2 separate regions of the Homo sapiens genome follow, and region 2 is linked to region 1. The links come from fine-mapping of genetic effects on gene expression. A gene starts in region 1. The other region holds a variant in brackets. All regions are shown on one strand. Distances are between the middles of the regions.

Region 1 (2,929 bases):
GGGGTTCTGAGGAATTTATAGATCTAGTAAACTGTGGGCCTTTTAATGCATAATTTGTGAACTAATCAATTTTCTCATTTTAATACAACCTCCCTCCCTCCCTCTTTTCCTTCCTTCCTTTCTTCCTTCCTTCCTTCCTCCTTTTCCTCTGTTCCTTTCTTTTCTTTTCTTTTTTTTTGTTATACTTTAAGTTCTAGGGTACATGTGCACAATGTGCAGGTTTGTTACATATGTATACATGTGCCATGTTGGTGTGCTGCACTGGTTAACTTGTCATTTACATTATACTACAGGGCTACAGTAACCAAAACAGCATAGTACTGGCATAAAAACAGACACATAGACTAATGAAACACAATAGAGAACCCAGAAACAAACTCATACATCTACAGTAAACTTGTTTTCAACAAAGGTACCGAGAATATATGTTGGAGAAAAGGCAGTCTCTTCAATAAGTGGGGCTTGGAAAACTGGATATCCATAGGCAGAAGAATGAAACTAGACCCCTATCTCTTGCCATATACAAAAGTCAAATTAAAATTGATTAAAGACTTAAATCTAAGACCACAAGCCATGAAATTACTAAAAGAAAATAGCCTACCTCAGCTTCCCACATGCTAGGATTATAAGCATGAGCCACTGTGCCCAGTGATACAACATTTATGACTGCAAAGTAACTCATCTCCCCTTTGCAGTTAACAGCACTTTGTGGGGAGATAATTTGAGACCATGTTGGTTGTCATCAAACCTTCACTCAGATTCAGCATCATTTGATGCTTTCTTCTTCAATCAACTACTACTATAATAGTTGCCAAATAATGACCTTCCAATTCTACCTTTCCTTCTGCATACAGTAATTAGCATTCTTATGTAAGGAATAATTATTTGTTTGTTTATGTAATTTGAACTCATGAATTCCTAGTTTATTTAATGGGCTATAATCTGCTATTATCATTTGTTTATTTTTTAAAAGTTTTATTTTAAGTCCAGGGGTATAAATGCAGGTTTGTTACATAGGTAAACTTGTGTCATGGGAGTTTGTTGTACAGATTTTGTCACCCAGATCTTAAGCCTAATACCCATTAGTTATTTAATTATTAGTTATTTTTCCTGATTGTCTTCCTTCTCCCACCCTCCAGCCTCTGAAAGGCCCCAGTGTGTGTTGTTCCTCTCTGTGTGTCCATGTGTTCTCATCATTTAGCTCCCACTTATAAATGAGAACAGGCAGTATTTGGTTTTCTGTTCCTGTATTAGTTTGCTAAGGATAGTGGCCTCCAGTTCCATCTGTGTTCTTGCAAAGGACATATCTCTTTCTTTTTTATTACTGCATAGTATTCCATGGTGTATATTGATCACATTTTCTTCATCCAGTCTACTGTTGGTGGACATATAGGTTGATTCCATGTGATATGGTTTGTCTCTGTGCCTCCACCCAAATCTCATCTTATAGCTCCTATAATTCCCATGTATTGTGGGAGGGACCCAGTGGGAGATAATCAAATCATGGGGGTGGGTATTTCCCATACTGTTCTCATGATAGTGATGGGTCTTACGAGATTTGACAGTTTTAAAAACAGGAATTTTCCTGAACAGGGTCATTTTTTTTTTTTTGCCTGCTGCCATCCATGTAAGATGTGATTTGCTGCTCCTTGCCTTCTGCCATAATTGTGAAGCCTCCCCAGCTATGTGGAACTGTAAGTCCAATAAACCTCTTTCTTTTGTAAATTGCCCAGTCTTGTGTATGTCTTTATCAGCAGCAAGAAAATGGACTAATAGAGTAAATTGGTAGCAGTAGAGTGGTGTGCTGCTGAAAAGATACCTGAAAATGTGGAAGTGACTTTGGAACTCGGTAACAGGCAGAGGCTGGAATGGTTTGGAGGGCTCAGAAAAAGACAGGAAAATGTGGGAAGGTTTGGAACTTCTTAGAGACTTGTTGAATGGCTTTGACCAAAAGCCTGATAGCAATATGGACAATAAGGTCTTGGCCGAGGCTGTTTCAGATAGAGATGAGGAACTTGTTGGGAACTGGAACAAAGGTGACTCTTGTTATGTTTTGGCAAAGAGACTGGTGGTATTTTGCCCCTGCCCAAGAAATCTGTGGAACTTTGAACTTGAGAGAGATGATTTAGGGTATCTGACTGAAGAAATTTCTAAGCAGCAAAGCATTCAAGAGGTGACTTGTGTGCTGTTAAAGGCATTCAGTTTTATAAGGGAAGCAGAGCATAAAAATTCGGGAAATTTGCAACCTGATAATTTGATAGAAAAAGAAAACCGGTTTCCTGAGGAGAAATTGAAGCTGGCTGTAGAAATTTGCATAAGTAATGAGGAGCCAAATGTTAATCCCCAAGACAATGGGAAAAATGTCTCCAAGGCATATCAGAGGTCTTCATGGCGGCCCCTCCCATTACAGGCCCAGAGGCCTAGGAGAAAATGCTCTCGTGGGCCAGCCCCATGGTCCCTGTGCTGTGTGCAGTCTAGGGACTTGGTGCCCTGTGTCCCAGCCACTCCAGCCCTGACTAAAAGGGGCCATGGTACAGCTTGGGCTGTTGCTTCAAAGGGTGGAAGCACCAAGCCTTGGTAGCTTCCATGTGGTCTTGAGCCTGTGGGTGCCCAGAAGTCAAGAACTGAGGTTTGAGACCCCCTGCCTAGACTTCAGAAGATGTATGGAAATGGTACCAGCTCTTCTTTTTCTTTCTTCTTCTTCTTCTTCTTTTTTTTTTTTTTTGAGACAGTGTCTCACTTTGTCAACCAGTCTGGTCACAAACTCCTGCCTGGCCCCCCCAAGTAGTTGAGACTATAGGCATACACAACCATGCTCTACTAATTTTTTGTATTATTTGTAGAGATGGGGTTTTGCCATGTTGCCCAGGATGGTCACAAACTCCTGAGCTCAAGTGATCTGTCCACCTTGGTTTCCCAAAATGCTGGG
Region 2 (2,929 bases), 89 kb after region 1:
TTTCTTCTGTTTATCTAGGGGAACTCTTTGTTTCTCTAAGGGGTACATCCTTATTTCTACTGTCTTCTCAAATTCAATCATCTTGTTCTTTAGCATTTGATTTATTGGCTCATTAAACTTGGAACCCAAATTACTAGCAACCTCAAAACAAGTTTTCTTTCTAGGTTACTGGTCTAATGTTTAACTTATTTTAGGTAACTGACCTAATGTTTAAATATATAAATTCTATTGCACCAAAAAAGGGAAGAAAAACCACCAGTCAGACCTCCATCTTGAAACAGTCCAATGTTTATATGTTGTCATGGACCTTTGATGACTTAAAATTGTGTCTCCGTCCAAGTCATTTGGAACTCTTGAAATAGTCAGCTAGCCAAAAGTTATTTTTAAGTGCTAATTTTGTGCCAGCTTTTGGAAAAACAAAAGTAAATAGGAAGGAAAAGATTTCTTGCTCAAGAAGAACAAGAGTTCTAGTTTGAGAGTTAGGCAATGAGCATCTAAACCAAAAATGTATGTAAGAGTACGAGAGAGTTAGGTTTCAAAGATGGTAGTCTCTAGAGCAAGATTATGGGCTAGAGATCTTAGGAAGTGCAGAAACGTCAAAAAGAGGAAGAATAGCAGCATATTCAGAAGGTGAACCCTGTAACTTGGGAAATCCAGCTGAAACCACAGATGCTGATTTCCTATTTGAACTGAACCTGTCTTTTTTCTTTTGAGACAGGCTCTTATCTCTGTCACCCAGGCTGGAGTGCAGTGGCACAATCATGGCTCACTGCAGCCTTGATCTTCTGGGCTCAGATGATCCTCTCACCTCAGCCTCTCAAGTAGCTGGGATGACAGGCATGTGCCACCACCCCTAGCTAAGTGTTTTGTAGAGATGGGGTTTCACCATGTTGCCCAAGCTGATCTTTAACTCCTGGGCTCAAGTGGTTCACCCACTTCAGCCTCCCAAAGTGCTGGGATTACAGACACGAACTCTCATGCTCGCCTTGTTGTTTCTTAAAAAAATCACATTGCTGAGCATAAGAGGAAAAATTGAATCTTTTTCCTATAATAAATCAATCGCTGGTAAAACTTAAAATGAAGAGCTAAAAGTTCTTCCAGATAACACATAAATGTCTTTGCAGGAAAGTATCTCACTATCAAATCAATCTATGCAGTTAGGCCAGGTAATTCTCCTTTCTAAGCTGATTTTGTGGCTGAACTTTTATTGTATATTGAAGGTGATAAGTAAGATAAAGGAAAGACAGTTTGGATGAGGATAGCATTCAGCATTGTGTTCAGTTTATGCAGTTAGATTTTTTTTT[C/TC]TATTTTGAAATCTTATTTATTCTTTCAAAATGCTTTTTAGGAAAACATTTGAAATAGATGTTTTTATTATCCAAGGCGCTTGTGATGTGGCAGGTTTTCTAACTGTGGTCAGATTCAGATGGTGAATAGTTCTTCATAATAACACTGATGTTTGGTGTGCCAGTTTCTTTTTATGTAGTTATAATGGATATCGTTTTTGTTCATTTTCCCCTTGTTTCCCTCATCCTATGGTATTTTTTACCATTCACCTCCCAGTATAGTATGAAAAAAATTATCTCCTGAATCACCTGTGTCTCTCAACAGGTCAGTTACGATTTGGTCAACTTGGAAACTATCCATAGAGCTAACCTGAATGCTTTGGGCCAGTAACTCCACTTAGTTCTCAACTGCAATGAGGGATTTCTATTTGATTGAAGTGTGGAGGAAAGGCTCCGAGCCAGGGGGAACACAATTGCTGACAGACTGGCATGATAAAGGCCCTAATGAATGCACTTTATAGAGCACAAAGGTAGTGTCTTTTTTGAGTCAAAATTTGGAGTCTGACTCAGTTCATATCCAGTCTCTGTCACTTGCCAGTTGTGTGACTTTGAGCAAGTCCTTGCTGAACCTCGATTTCTTCATCTGTAAAACAGACACCTTAATGTATCTGCTTTACAATGATGCTATACTCTTTAAATAAGGTTATATGCAAGATACTGAATATATATAATAGCACAAAATAGGTGCATGATAAGTTAAAGACAAAAATAGAGAGCTGTAGATACTAATACTATTCTCATTTTCAGATTTTTACTTGATAATGATGAAAACACTTCAAGGACATTGGCTAAATGTTTAAAACAGGCAAGTTGGGCAATAGAACCTAATTTAAAAAAAGACAGGAAGGTAGTGGACAGAGCAGCATTGCATAAGCAGTCAGATAGCAACTCTTCCTTGTAGTCTGAAGCAGATTTACTAACATAAATATTTGAATATTTTGAGTATTCCTTAATAAGTCAGGCATCCATGACTGACTAAGCATCATTAATACAAAGTATCTTATGTATCCTTAGTACTTAAAAGTTGTATTATTAAAGGGAAAATAAAATTGGAATATTGCAGAGGAAAAGTTATTCATAGGTTGACATAAAAGACATAAAATCTTGTAGTGCATAAGGTTTAATAGTTCTCTTTTTCATAAATCATGAAAAGGGCTTTTCTTCTAATTTGATGGACCATTTCTCTTTCTCCTTCTCCATCTCAGTCTGGTGTAGCACTTGGTGGTGTCCAATGAATATTCATGATGACCGATTTCTTCCCAGCGGCAGCACTACATGTAGAAAGAGAGGTTCTCACTGATCGCTTCTGATCTGTAGAGTACAATTTAAAAACCAGCCTGGTTAATCCACAAACATAAAACTTACCTGTTTTCACAAAACATTGTATTTAGAGTACTAAGATCTGTAAATTGTTATTTTTTTTCTTTCAAATATAGCAATCACATTTTAAAAAGGAATTTTCTGGGTAATTAAAGTAGTTCACCTACTTGCACTAAGCGTTGGTTAGGAAGGCAGCCTTGTGTACAAAGGGCTTTGTGTTTATTCTGTTTCAATGTATGGAACCACAAGGATTTTTTGATTAATTT

Evidence for each region.
Region 2: its variant is fine-mapped to the expression of LINC00639 in whole blood (TOPMed, PIP above 0.99).

Annotation. Positions count from the first base shown.
Region 1 is chr14:38,915,547-38,918,475 of GRCh38, reverse strand. LINC00639 (long intergenic non-protein coding RNA 639) reads left to right here and starts at 1,594. Exons shown (of 5, transcript NR_039982.1): 1 at 1,594-1,694. All of the region lies in intron 4 of LOC105370457 (a long non-coding RNA gene), which reads right to left.
Region 2 is chr14:38,826,353-38,829,281 of GRCh38, reverse strand. The region is part of intron 4 of LINC00639 (long intergenic non-protein coding RNA 639); the gene reads left to right. Among named protein-coding and RNA genes, the nearest start is that of LINC00639, 89 kb to the left of the region's middle. The variant C/TC (reference allele first, on the strand shown) is at 1,305.